3 linked regions of the Homo sapiens genome follow. The protein of the gene in region 3 interacts with the protein of the main gene of each other region in a pairwise test. Each region holds a gene or a part of one and is shown on either strand. Other genes may lie near its edges.

Region 1 (4,414 bases), on a different chromosome or scaffold from region 3:
TGATCACCCTTGATGGTTTTAAGCTATGAAGAGACGTTATTTATTGTAGGAATATGTCAGGAAGTAATGCGGGATTGAATCTGTATGTGTACATCTGTATTTGTGCATAGGTAGTAATTTTCTTCATGTAGCTGTTATATCAGTGGAATCCTGTATAGTGTATAAACACAAGTTAAGGCAAAAACTGCTCTATTGGTATACTGGTAGGTAGAAATGTGAAATGAATTAGTTTCCTAACTCAAGAGAAGAAAAAAATCTTGCCTCTGGGCTTAAAAGGAAAATAAAAATGTCAATCTAAAAATACTTTTGTCCTTTAATATATTTGTTTAAAAAATCAACAGAATAGTCTCACTTTTTTCTCAAAAACCAGATTAAACATTTAGGTTTTCTGAGGAGGGGTTAGGTTAATTGAGGTTTAATTTATATACAATAAAATTCATCCTCTTTAAATGTTCATTTGAAGAGTCCTGAAACTATCACCACAGTCAAGTATAGACTGTTTCCATCACTTCATATAAAAAGTTCTGTCAGGCCCTCCTACCCCTGGTTACTGACCGCTGCAAATCAGTTTTCTGTCACTAATATTTTACCTTTTCTAGAATGTCATATAAATCTAGCTCCTTAAGGGCAGGGCCCCCAGGTATTGTTCATCTTTCTGTCTTGTATCTGTATTTCCTGTAAGTGGAAGCTAGACCTTAAGGGTTTATTAGGTGTTCATTAGAAAATTTTTTAGCAAGAATATTGTATATGGCGCTGGGTACTGCATGTTGCATCCCATCCAGAGGTTGTGAGGTTGTCTCACTATTTAATATGTTAAATCTGATTACTTGGGTAAGACGGTACCTACTAGATTTCATCTCTGTAAATGTATGCTTTTTCCATTTGTAAAGAACAAGTAATCACAGGGTAAAAATTTGAGCACATTGTGAATGCCTTTTACCTAATGCTTTTAGCATTCTTTGATAATCCTTGTCTGAGTCAATAATTTCATTAGGGGTTGCAAAATGATGAATTAAAAAATAATTCTGTTATTTCTTCTATGTTTATTAGCTGGTACTCTTCTGCAAAGAAGAGTTGGCCTTCACTGACTGTCAGTGAAATGTAGTTTCTCCTAATCCAGCAGCATAAATGCTTAATTCTCTTCCCTCATTAGCCAAATTGGTGTAATAGTCCAGTGGTGGTGTGGCAGGTGCTGTGGTTAGGCTTTCAGATCCCGCTTTCAGGCACATGTTCCCCTAGCTCTTGGCAATATTGGCAGCTAAAACTGATTGCAGCTGAGTCCCACTCCACGCATTGCCCTGAGCCAAGAGTTGCCTCCCCCAGAGTCATGCCTCCTCTTCAGGGGCAGTTTACATCTAATATCTATACAGTGTAGGGATATAAATGCCTAGCGCTTTTGCTATAAGACAAGCCAACCTTGAAGTCTATCCCAACACCAGAGAGCTCTCCCATGGGTCTGGCTGAGGGCTTCCTGGGACTGCATTGCAGATCAACTCCTTCCTCTGTTCAGTCTTACGTCTTTCACTGCCCCACAGTTGTTGGTTCGGAGGGCACTCCGCAATAAACTTCCGGTGTGCACATCTGCATTTGAGAGTCTGTTTCCTGGGAACCCTCCTACCCAAAGCAGTTGGTGCCAGGAGTGGTCTCAGAAAGTAGACTTTACAGTGAGGTTTTGAAGCTGGATTATTGGCTGGCTGGCTGGCAATGAGAATCGATTCTGGTGCTAGATGGAGCACTAATACTGATAACGCTTGGCATGCACTGTAGCTATGCAACTTAAAACTTTCACTGGTGGTGAGTTGGAATGCTATTCCTGTTGAAGGGAATGCACTGGTGAGTGCACTAGGCTTTTGAGAAGTTCAGAGAAATTAATTATGAGGACAATCATCAGATGGCTTTTGGTAAATAACATTGATAGATTGGAGAAAGATGATGCAAGGTGGAAGATAATTGGGGGCAAAATGTAAAAGGAAATTTATTTAGCATCATGTAAAGAAACACATATACAGTAAGAGGAAAAATCTAAGGCTTCAACCCAAAACTTAATTTTAAGGGTAGCAGAGCACCAAGGTAGGTAGAATTCTCTCTCAGCTATGCTAAGGTCAGTGTTCTGGTTGGGCAGGAATCCTGACCCTTAGGATGGGGCATCTGAGTGCACTTGAAAACCCTGAAACCCCAAATTCCTCTTAACCCTCTGGGCCTGCAGAAGTGGCCTTCTTCTACTAGCTAGAGGGGTTGCTTGCAGACTGTGCTGTCCCTCTTACCCCCAGCTCCTCCTCTCTCGCCTACTGACTATCACCAAACCAACAACTAGGGTTAAGTCACAAGAACACCTAGTTCGGGGTGCTGGATCTGCGAAGGGAGGAAGGGACTGTACACACAAACACACACACACACACGTTCCCAAACTGCACCAAGGCACCCCAAAGCACCACCACAGACACAAAAGAATACCATGGGATATTTCAGAATTTTAAAGGAAACACAGCAATATCTGTCACAAATTACTAGCTTGAGGTAGTTCACGGTTTTGACATTAGCTCATGCCACATTTCTTTTGATGATGTCATATTTTTGCAGGGTTGGATTTTTACTAGTTGTGATACAGATCAAGCACTGTGCAAAAATCAGTGTGGAACAGGAAAGGAGGGTGGCATGTTCAGTCTGATTCCAAGTTTGAGAAGTTGTTCTGTGTCTAACAGGCACACATGTCATATTATCAAGTAATTGAAGTTTTTGTTTGTTTGTTTGTTTTGAGGCAGAGTCTCGCTCTGTCACCCAGGCCAGAGTGCAGTGGTGCGATCTCGGCTCACTGCAACCTCCGCCTGCCAGGTTCAAGTGATTCTTCTGCCTCAGCCTCCTGAGTAGTTGGGATTACAGGCGTGTCCCACCACACTCGGCTGATTTTTGTATTTTTACTAGAGGTGGGGTTTCACCATATTGGTCAGGCTGGTCTCGAACTCCTCACCTCGTGATCCGCCTGCCTCGTTCTCCCAAAGTGCTGGGATTACAGGCGTGAGCCACTGCGCCTGGCCCAGTATTTGTAGTTTTTAAGAAGGAAATAAAAATATTTTTCTTCCAATTTATGTGTTATTTTTTCAAATGTCTACTCATTTGTTAGGACATGAATTCTTGTTATTTGGATCTAACTACTTAATAAACACTACTGTTTGGTATTTCTTTTGGCCTATGAGTGCATGGAAAAATTACCGATGATGGCTGTGCATGGGCCCAATAAAAGGGTTTTCATTCACCAGTGCTGATCTAGCAACTGCTGCTGCTGAATATCCAGCCTGACAGCAGCAGAGATCAATCATCCTTCAAGCAGGCCAACCAGTCCTTATACAGTGGAAAGGACCATGATTCATTTTGATTGGATTTGAGACATATTCTGGGTCTGAATTTGTCTTTCCAGCAGGGTCTCACCCAGGACTACTGTTTGAGGGCTTGCAGGATGTTTGATCCTCTACTACAGGGATCATTTCAGAATAAGGGACCCACTGTTATGTTATGTTATGTTATGTTATGTTATGTTATGTTATGTTATGTTATGTTATGTTATGTTATGTTTTGAGACGGAGTCTTGCTCTGTTGCCCAAGCTGGAGTGCAATGGCGTGATCTCAGCTGACTGCAACCTCCGCCTCCCGGGTTCAAGCAGTTCTCCTACCTCAGCCTCCTGAGTTGCTGGGACTACAGGTGCACATCACCACGCCCAGCTAATTTTTGTGTTTTTAGTAGAGACGGGGTTTCACCATGTGGACCAGGATGGTCTCGAACTCCTGACCTCGTGATCCGGCCACGTCAGCCTCCCAAAGTGCTGGGATTACAGGCGTGAGCCACCGCGCCCGGCCGGGACCCACTTTTATAGAATAGGAGAATCATTTGTCCCATCTTGCACCACACCGTCCAGAAGCTGATGACTTGATAGAGCAGTAAAACAGTCCTTTGATGGCACAGCTGATGATGAGATCCTGCAGCTTGGGCATGATGCCCTGCAAGGGTGAGGCGCCCATTCTCCAGTGTTCCCAGTAGGAAGATCACATGAAATTAGGAGTGGCTCCGCATAGCATCACTCTGTGAATCACCTGGGCAGTTTCTGCTTCCCATCTCCATAGCTCTGATGGCAAGGGGTTAAAAGATCCTGGTTCTCAGAAGAGAAACATTTCCAACAGAGGGCGCTATGAGAATCCTGTTATACTTTAAAGTACAGCTGCCACTAGGATTTGGGGCTCCTTTTCTAAATAAAGAAGTCACCAGGCTGGGCACGATGGCTCACGCCTGTAATCCCAGCACTTTGGGAGGCCGAGATGAGTGGATCACGTGAAGTCAGGAGTTCGAAACCAGCTCAGCCAACATGGTGAGACCCTGTTTGTACTACAAATACAAAACAATTAGCCGGGCATGTTGGCGCGT
Region 2 (4,414 bases), on a different chromosome or scaffold from region 3:
AGGCTGGTCTCAAACTCCTGACCTCAGGTGACCTGCCTGCCTTGGCTTCCCAAAGTGCTGGGATTACAGGCATGAGCCACCACACCTGGCCACATTACCTTTATCACAAAAAAGTTATTTAAAAAAAAGTTTCTGTCTTGGGTAAACAAAATAGAAGACGAAGAACTAGATGTCTAGGGCCAGTTCACTGTTCAACTGCAAGGGTCACCACTCGAGCAATGAGCTAAGCAGCCCTATGTCTGCTTCTGTCTGTCTTTGATGATGGACAACTACATGGGAAAGAACTCAAACTACATGTGGAAAAACTCCACTGATTTAGAGCGTTAGCTGTGTTACACATACATCAGCAAAATCATTCACAGACGAGTCACCCAAGAGTTTAATAATCCCACATCACGAGTGTTTGATTCTGTTACTTATCATCAGTTCATATTTCATTCTTCACAGCACAACTGCCTATTCCAAGGCCCTGCAAATTGTTCTGTTTGAAGCATCTAGGTAAACTGCAAAGTTTACTTGCCCTCTCCAGATAGTAGACGTGGACAGCAGCTGTTCACGTGAGTGCATGCTCTGCACGTGTGCAGAAAAGGGCAAAAACTGGCACAGCCAAAGTGTGCTGAAGACTTTTCATAGCAGGCCTGGGTGGCTCTCCTTGGAAAGGCCTGCTTGCAAGGTTGCCCCTTGGCTGGTGTCTGGGAATTTGGATTTCAGAAAGGTTCCCATCGGTCCAATAACTGATACGGGATTCTGCCTAAACCGTTTGCGCAAGCAATGTGCTTTCTGCTGAACACTTTGCTTTTGTTTTGGGAGTTTGGACTTTTGGTTCAAGCCAGGCAGATGGTACCTATGGGACCAGCCCTCAGTAAAAACTCTGGACACGGAGTCTGTAATGACCTTCCCTGGTTGGCAGCATTTCACGTGTGGTCACAGTCTGGTGCTGGAGTAGTTACGCGTAGCCTTGTGGCCCCACTGGGAGAGGAGTCTGGAAGTTTCCTTTAGGCCCTGCCTCACCTGTCCTTTCCCTTCCTGACTCTGCTCCGCATGCTTTTGCTGTCAGCAACCATAGCCACGGGTATACCAGCTTCTGCATTTTCTGAGTTCTTCCAGTGAATCACCCAACCTCAGGGTGGTCTTGGGGAGCCCAACACATCCCCTATTAATGTAACCTTTAGAAGATGCTTTTGTTCATAGCATTATCTCTGTGCACGATCCAAGAGGGGTTCCTGAGCACCCACTTTATTTTGCCTCCACCTGTGCTAGGTGGGCCCCTCTGGGTTCTAAGGCATCTCTGTATCTTTGTGCTTCTCTTGTTGACTATTCATTAACTCATTCCCTCACTGAGGGCAGAGGGCGCACTTCATTCCATTTCTGCATCCCTAACACCATGTTCCCATTACTTGGGAAGTGCAAATTCCAAGCCAATACCAAAAGCTGCATTATAAGCATTTAAAAAGCTTAAGACCCTATGCTACCCCTGGTGGTATCCTGCAACGATGCCCTCGACATTCACTCTTCTTCAAAGCAATGAAGCTTCAAGTAAACTTGACTTAAATGGCATTTTCTCAACTATTTTTCTCTCTGAATACATTTCCCTAAGCATCATTTCAACTGCTTGTACTGATTCATCACAAACTCAATCTGGGAGGAAAGAAATGCTCCAGTTAACGGTGCTAAGGGCGGCCCAAGTCACTCTCAACAGCCCCAGGGCCTTTTATAAGGGCTCCCTGGCCCCTTGGTCTCATGCCTTTAGTAACAAAGTATGTGATTAAAAAAAAATTAGGTAAAGGAATCAAGTACATCAAATAGCTACTAAAGCCTGTAAGTATGATGAAGACATAAGCTCTTCTGAATACTGCCATCATTCCAGGCCCAGTGCACTCCATTCTACCCCAGTGGCATATAGTGCAGTGGTTAAGAGAACTGACTTGAAAGCTGGGTTCTGCCATGTACATTAGCTACCTGACCTCAGACAGTGGCTTCACTTCTCTTAACCGTAACAAGGAGACCATAATCATACTTTATTCAGAGTCAACTAAGTTAATATATGTAAAGTACTGAGAGCAGTGCTTGGTGCACCATATCATCCAAGCAATGGACTCTTATAAACCTACATCTACTTATAGCGCTGGAGACAGAGGGCAAATATCAATAAGCAACAGTTACCACACAAACACTGGAACAAAAGGCAACACTTGATACTAGTGACAACAGAGAAGTCTCAAACCTTTTCAGACAGGCTTGACTTGTTAACTGTCAGGAGTCTGTAAATATATGTGGGCTCAAAGGCAGCTCCAGGGCGAATATCCCTCACGATTTTATCTCCAAGAGCTGCAATGGAAAGAGGACACAGGTTTTCCTAACTACAATGAACTCATAAATGATGAAAAAAGCAACATCATCAAAACTCCCCCACCTCCCACCTGGCTGAATGTTGAGAATGGCATAGGTGTAAAGACACTATCTTCCCAACAAGACTGAATTTACCAAATTTAAGTCATCTGTCTCCATAACTCCCAATATGTAATAGCATCAACAAAACTCATTTTTACTAACCTTGTCGGGGTTTTGGAGGTACTGGCATATTAGTGAACTCATTCATTAGCCGAACACTAAACATGGGGAAAAAATGTTAAATAGTGCAGTTTTAAACAATATATACTTTTACTAAAGAGCTTTGATGGCTAAGTAGAATATCAGCTATACGAGTATAGTAGATTTTAGGTAACCAATGCTGTAACAGCTAGTGAACTCAAGTCTCTTCTATATGCATTTTTGGTCTATTTCAAGTGATATATGCTGGTAAACGCTAAAATATTTTCTACTGAATCTAAAGAACACAGATCATCAATGCTCCAATTCCATTTCTGGTTAACTTCCATATAAAATCGCCAACAGTCTATTTTTAAAAAAAGACAGAATTATAGGACTCATTTGCAGGAAATCAAGAGCTTTACTAAACTATTTCAATTCTAATTATCAGACGGGAAAAACCCCACCACTTAACACATCTTTCACCACCTTACTTACAAGCTGTCTATCATGGGTGTTGACGTACAAGGCCTTTGCACTTTGGAATACAGAGGAATGAACTTCATCAGGTGGTACATCGGCGGGCAAGCAACCAATGCCTGCAGTGTCTATGTAGTGGCAGTAAGGAAGCGTAAAGGAAATGAACAGACACACCACATTTCCTGAAGGCACATGAAGCACAAGAATGTTTATAAAAACACAAGGAAGCTAAGGACGTTGAACTACTTAGATATGTCACCACGAAAAGGAATAAACCAAATAGTTACTAGGGTAAGTGTCCTGTGATGTCCATATAAGGATCTACGAAGCAGTCAGTCGTTTGTATTCAAGAACTTGACCTAACCAAGACAGTTCAATCAGTTAAAACCAAATTTCCAGTTGTAAGTGGTTGCTCTGCCCTATTATTTGTGACTATTCTAATGAGAGCCAGCTTGTCTGCAGCCCTCATTCACGTGCCAACATATCCTCTCTTTTAGAGGGAGATGGACTGGGGTCAGGAATAATCCTGTTTATAAGCAAGGTAGGCAGACCAAGTAATAAACCAGACTTAGGGATTCAAATGGAGAGCTAGATGGCCCACGGAAGCTGAGCTAAGTCACATGCACCCAAAGGAGGGACAGCTGCAACAAGCTGGCCTTGCGGACGGCGTCCAGGAAGGATACAGCATTAATGTAGCACCAGTTCCCTTTATTGATCAGCCCACGGGGTTGCAACGACACTGGTTTATGGATTAGGGTTACATTCTCCAGCAACTCTGAAAGAGTGAAGAAGCATATTTCAGAAATTGATGACATCTAGTGAAGAACATTCAAATCATTTCACATGCTCTACTCTGGGACAGCATTTAAAATCCCTTCAGTAAAACACACAGCCAAAGAAAATGCATACTGTTAAGGCTTCATTCAGTTCAACATCAAGTACATTATTCAATTAGAACATTTTTGAAACTAATCTTTTCCCTCAAATAGCAACATTTAATCTTCCTGGGGGGAACAGAATTAGGGAACACAAGAACTACCTATTTTAATGAGAAACAAAAAAATGTTAACACAGTATCATTATTAGAGAATAGATTTGAGAGATACAGCCTTTCTTCCTTAAACACCATTAGCCAGGTGTGTCTCATCAGCAGCAAGGCGCCTCAGACACTAGATAGAAAGATATCTTGCAGAACCCACGTCTCATTCCTCTCTGCATCCCCAGCATCTAATGCTGACCCTACACATCACTGTGTGTGTTCAATGGCTGTTCAGTGAGTAAAAATACTCCTTTCAGAGACAGCGGTCTCCTACAAATTAAACCGTCCACTAGAAATCCAATTTAGCAACTGTTTTATAAACTGTAATTCCCTTATTCCATTTACAAACACGCTGCTCAGCCTCAG
Region 3 (5,332 bases):
CCATTGGACGCCCTCAGTGTGATGCGCCGGTCACGCCACTCGATGTCAAAGTAGCAGCTGGCATTCCTGGGGGATGGCGGGACAGGGTCAGGCGGGGTAGCCCAGGCAAGGTGGTGGGGGCGGTGACAGGTGGGAGCGAGGCACTCACTTGCTGGAGGCGGTGGACTGCACGCCCCCGGTGGCCGTCAGCGTCCAGTACTTGCCCGTGTGGGTACGGAAGGCACACTTTTTGGTGTCGCGGTCGATCTCCAGCTGGAAGGTCTCCTGGTCGGTCTCCTCGTCCTGATTGGCAGACAGGTCCATACCTGCAGAGAGGAGGCCTTGGGCTGGTACTGGGGCCCCACGCCCCCTAGTTCTGGCAGACCATAGCCCTGAGCTCACAGAACTACACACGCAAGGTAACACCACGGGGTGGGGTGGGCGGCCGAGTCCCCACAGTGGCACACATGAGAAGCAGCAGAGAGCACCCAGGAACGCAGGCAGGGCCGGTCAGAGGCCAAGGCAAGCTACATCTGTTCCCACATGACTTTCCCCAGTTAGAGAAATAATAGGGGCCAGGGACAGGGGCTCATGCCTGTGATCGCAACACTTTGGGAGGCCAAGGCAGGAGGATTGTTTGAGTCTAGGAGTTTGAGACCAGCCTGGGCAACATAGCAAGACCCCCACCCCACCCCCGTCTCTACAAATTACTTTTTTTAATTAGCTGGGAGTGGTGGTGCAAACCTGTGGTCCCAGCTACTTGGGAGGCTGAGGCAGGAGGATCGCTGAGGCAGGAGGCTGAGGCTGCAGTGAGCCGTGATTGCACCACTGCACTCCAGCCTGGGTGACACAGTGAGACCCTGTCTCAAAAAAAACAAAAAGAATCAAGAAACCAACTGCACAAAAGACATTCTTGAGCCAATCAGGAGGGTCTTAACGTGGCCCAGAATTAGATGTTAAGCATTGATTACTGTTGATCACGTTGTGGTTACATAAGAAAATGGCCTCGTTTTTTTAGAAACACAGATGGAAGTATTTTGGGATGAAATGCCCTGATGTCAGGGATTTGCTTCAAATACAACCAAAAATGGTATAGAAAAGGACAAATGGGGCTGCAGCACAGCGGAACAGCGCATCTTGGGGGGCCGTGTCTGGGGGTTCATGCTATTGTTCCTGCTTCTATGTAAAAATTAAAATAAAACACGATGGTACATGTTCCTTTCCTTTAGAAAACTTATAAAAGGGCCGGGTGCGGTGGCTCATATCTCCTGCAATCCCAGCCTTTTGGGAGGCCAAGTCAGGAGGATCATTTGAGACCAGGAGTTCAAGACCAGCCTGGACAACTTAGCAAGACCCTACTTAAAAAAAAAAAAAAGGGGCCAGGCACAGTGGCTCACACCTGTAATCCCAGCAGTTTGGGAGGCCAAGGCAGGCAGATCACCCGAGGTCGGGAGTTTGAGACCAGCCTGACCAACATGGAGTCACCCCGTCTCTACTAAAAATACAAAATTGCCTGAGGCTGAGGCAGGAGAATCACTTCAACCTGGGAGGCGGAGATGGCAGTGAGCCGAGATCACTCCAGCCTGGGCAACAAGAATGAAATTCCGCCTCAAAAAAAAAAAAAAAATTTTTTTTTAAGCCCTGTCTCTAAAACAAAAAAAAGGAAACTATGAAGTCCTACACGTCCCCTTCCCACCCCACTGCAGAACACCCCTGTGTTGGCAAATACATCTCTTTCTTTTTGATTCAGGGTCTTGCTCTGTTGCCCAGGTTGGAGTGCAGTGGCACAATCATAGCTCACTGTAGCCTCGACTTCCTGGGCTCAAGTGATCCTCCCACCTCAGCCTCCCAAATAGCTGAGACTACAGGCACACACCACCACATCAAGTTAATTTTTTTTTCTATTTGGTACAGACAGGGTCTGGCTATGTTGCCTAGGATGGTCTTGAACTCCCGGCCTCACATGATCCTCCTAACTCAGCCTCCCAAAGTGCTGAGGTTACAGACACAAGCCACCATGTGCCCAGCCAGTGAACCCACAACTTTCTAGCTGTTTTTTTCTTATACATAAGAAGCATGCGGGTTGCCACGGCGGCTCACGCCTGTAATCCCAGCACTTTGGGAAGCTGAGGCGGGTGGATCACCTGAGGTCATGAGTTCAAGACCAGCCTTGCCAACATGGTGAAACCCCGCCTCTACTAAAAATACAAAAATTAGCTGGGCATGGTGGGGCATGCCTGTAATCCCAGCTACTTGGAAGTCTGAGGCAGGAGAATCACTTGAACCTGGGAGGCAGAGGTTGCAGTGAGCTGAGATTGCACCACTGCACTCCAGCCTGGGCGACAGAGCAAGAATCCATCTCAAAAAAAAAAAAAAAAAAAAAAAGGAAGAAAGAAAGAAACATGCACAGATGTCCTCTGTCTCTGGATTTGCATACTGTTTTCTGTATGGCATCTTTACATGATTCCATGTCCCTAAAAAGTAGAATGGGACTGGCCGGGCACAGTGGCCCACACCTGTAATCCCAGCACTTTGGGAGGCCGAGGCGGGCGGATCATGAGGTCAGGAGTTTGAGACCAGCCTGGCCAACATGGTGAAACCTCATCTCTACTAAAAATACAAAAAAAAGGACCAGGCAAGGTGGCTCATGCCTGTAATCCCAGCACTTTGGGAGGCCGAGGCAGGCGGATCACGAGGTCAGGAGATCGAGATCATCCTAACACGGTGAAACCCGTCTCTATTAATAATACAAAAAAAAAAAATTAGCCGGGCACGGTGGCGGGCGCCTGTAGTCCCTGCTACTCGGGAGGCTGAGGCAGGAGAATGGCGTGAACCCGGGAGGTGGAGCTTGCAGTGAGCCAAGATCGCGCCACTGCACTCCAGCCTGGGCGACAATGCGAGACTCTGTCTCAAAAAAAAAAAAATTAGCTGGGGGTGGTGCCGGGCGCCTGTAATCCCAGCTGCTCGGGAGGCTGACGCAGGAGAATTGCTTGAACCCAGGAGGCGGAGGCTGCAGTGAGCTGAGATCCGCCACTGCACTCCAGCCTGGGCGACAGAGCAAGACTCTGTCTCAGAATAGGACCCCAGGGATCTCTATCTTCGGGAAACTTAAGGTGGCTTTCGGGTTTTGCTCCCCTAAGCTATAGCAAAGCTGCTATTCTTTTTTTGAGAAAGAGAGTCTCGCTGTGTCTCCCGGGCTGGAGTGCAATGGCACGATCTCGCCTCACTGAAACCTCTGCCTCCTGGGTTCAAGTGATTCTCCTGCCTCAGCCTCCTGAGTAGCTGGGATTACAGGCACCCGCCACTATGCCCGGCTAATTTTTTTGTATTTTTAGTAGAGACGGAGTTTCATTATGTTGGCCAGGCCGGTCTCAAACTCCTGACCTCAGGTGATCCACCCACCTCAGCCTCCCAAAGTGCTGGGATTACAGGTATGAGCCACTGCGCCCAGCCCACAATTGCTATTCATTATAACTACATTGCTTTGCATATCCACATGGATTCCTCCAGCTAAAACCTGGAGGTGGGATGTTTGGCTCCAGCAGCACAAATTCACATTCCCCACGCGCTCTGGATTCTAAGAACTGCAGCAGCAGAGGCGTCTGCCGGGCTCTGTATGGGTGCCTGGCTCAGAGCTGGAGAGTGTCTTCGTTTGGGCACCTTGATGCTGCAGGGACCTCAGCGGTGGGTGGCAGGCAGCACCCACAGGAGAGGGAGGCTGGTGGGTGGTAGAGCCCACACCCAGAGGACACATCCTCAATTCCATTTTTTTTTTAGAGATAGGGTCTTGCTCTGTTGCCCAGGCTGGAGTGCAAGTGGCCCAAGCATGGCTCTCTACAGCCTCCACCTCCTGGGCTCAAAGGATCCTCTTGCCTCAGTCTCCCCAGTAGGTGGGACCACAGGCACTCACCACTACACCTGGCTAACTTTAACATTATTTTGTAGAGATGGGGGTGGTCTCGCTATGTTGCCCAAACTCCAGGACTCAAGCAGTCCTCCCACCTTTGCCTCCCAAAGTGCTGGGATTACAGGGGTAAGCCACCACGCCCGGCCTCCCCATCCTGTTCCATCCTGACCCAACCATGCAGCCCCACATCTGCTCCACAGGTGGGGATCTTCATCCTACTTCACAAAGAGGGAGACTAAGGCCGGTGGTGGCATGTCCTTGCCTAAGGTCACACAGCAAGAGAAAGTAAGGGTCTGGCTGGCTCTCTGGACCGGAGGTGGGTGGCCCTCTTGCCACGCCCTTTCCCTGCCCCACCCTCTTGTCTATGGGTTCCTGGCCCCGCCCCTTCTTGGAACCCCTTGGGCTCCACCCCCCAGGTTCCCTGGGGCCCCTTAAGCCGGTAGCCCACCCTCTGCCCTCCGACGAGCATCCACCGCACTGGGTGGGCTGGCTCAGCCACCACACCCCAGCCAAGCACGGGAGGAGGATAAGGTGAGCAGGGGCTGGGTCCCAGGGTGCCGGGACCATCCTAAGGCCACACCCCAGGGAACACGAGGGCTGGGGCCTCTGCTCACTCAGCCCTCCACCAGCCAAGAGGCCCTGCAAAGGTCTGGCCCGCCCCACCCCCACTGCACAGAAGCCGCAGGGCTGCAGGGAGCCGTCAGGCCAGCCACACCCGCACAGCTGCCCTCACCGCCCCCTCATTCTGCTCAGAAGGGCCTGCATGTCTACCTACAGGCAGGGGCCGCACCCTGGGCCCTGGCCTGTGCCGGCCACAGAGCACCACCTGTCCAATGCGCTGGGGCTCCGCTGAAGCCCCGCTGATCGGAGGGAAGTTAGGGACCAGGTAAGAGGACAGCCTCCTGCAGGCCCACCCCAGCAGCAGAAAGGATGGAGGGAGAGGTTCTAGGTCCACCCCAGCAGCAGGAAAAAACAGAGGGCATCAGGGGCTCCAGGTTCCCCAGAAAGAGGGGCAAAAGGAGAAGGGGAGACAGTGGAACAGAAACCACATTAGCACAGCCTCGTCCTAGGGTTTACAGGGCTCGTCCTCACACAGCCTTGCAAATAAGCAGGGCGCTTACCAGCCCGCCTGGAACAAATGCAGGAAGCCGGGAGGCTCCTTCTCAATGAGACTTCCAATGGCTGCGCAGGGCTTAACTGGCGGCAGCCACGGGGCCACGTGTGAATGCACGTCGGCCTTAATCCTCCTGGCAACTCCATGAAATTTACACTAACCTCATCCCCCAAGCCAGAGAAGAAAGGGAGCTTCCCAGCCATTCCTGGGCCCAGGGCCACACAACTGCCGCCATCTGTACCACGACTCAGTCCCCATCAGCCTGTTGCGTTCAATCCTGGAACTGGTTTGATGCAAAGGTTTAGGCCAGCCAGTGAGGCACCCACCGCGGG

What was found. The genes of interacting proteins can lie anywhere in the genome.
Region 1: the proteins of FSCN1 (region 3) and MYCBP2 interact in a two-hybrid assay, tested with the Homo sapiens proteins (one large-scale study listed by BioGRID and IntAct).
Region 2: the proteins of FSCN1 (region 3) and USP10 interact in a two-hybrid assay, tested with the Homo sapiens proteins (one large-scale study listed by BioGRID).

Annotation. Positions count from the first base shown.
Region 1 is NC_000013.11:77,317,095-77,321,508, reverse strand, and holds part of MYCBP2 (E3 ubiquitin-protein ligase MYCBP2), read left to right. Parts: intron 1-4,414. UniProt on the Homo sapiens protein: Atypical E3 ubiquitin-protein ligase which specifically mediates ubiquitination of threonine and serine residues on target proteins, instead of ubiquitinating lysine residues.
Region 2 is NC_000016.10:84,758,086-84,762,499, reverse strand, and holds part of USP10 (ubiquitin carboxyl-terminal hydrolase 10), read right to left. Parts: intron 3,785-4,414; coding exon 3,693-3,784; intron 3,138-3,692; coding exon 3,028-3,137; intron 2,610-3,027; coding exon 2,554-2,609; intron 2,329-2,553; coding exon 2,225-2,328; intron 1-2,224. UniProt on the Homo sapiens protein: Hydrolase that can remove conjugated ubiquitin from target proteins such as p53/TP53, RPS2/us5, RPS3/us3, RPS10/eS10, BECN1, SNX3 and CFTR.
Region 3 is NC_000007.14:5,598,230-5,603,561, reverse strand, and holds part of FSCN1 (fascin), read right to left. Parts: intron 306-5,332; coding exon 149-305; intron 67-148; coding exon 1-66. UniProt on the Homo sapiens protein: Actin-binding protein that contains 2 major actin binding sites. Organizes filamentous actin into parallel bundles. Plays a role in the organization of actin filament bundles and the formation of microspikes, membrane ruffles, and stress fibers.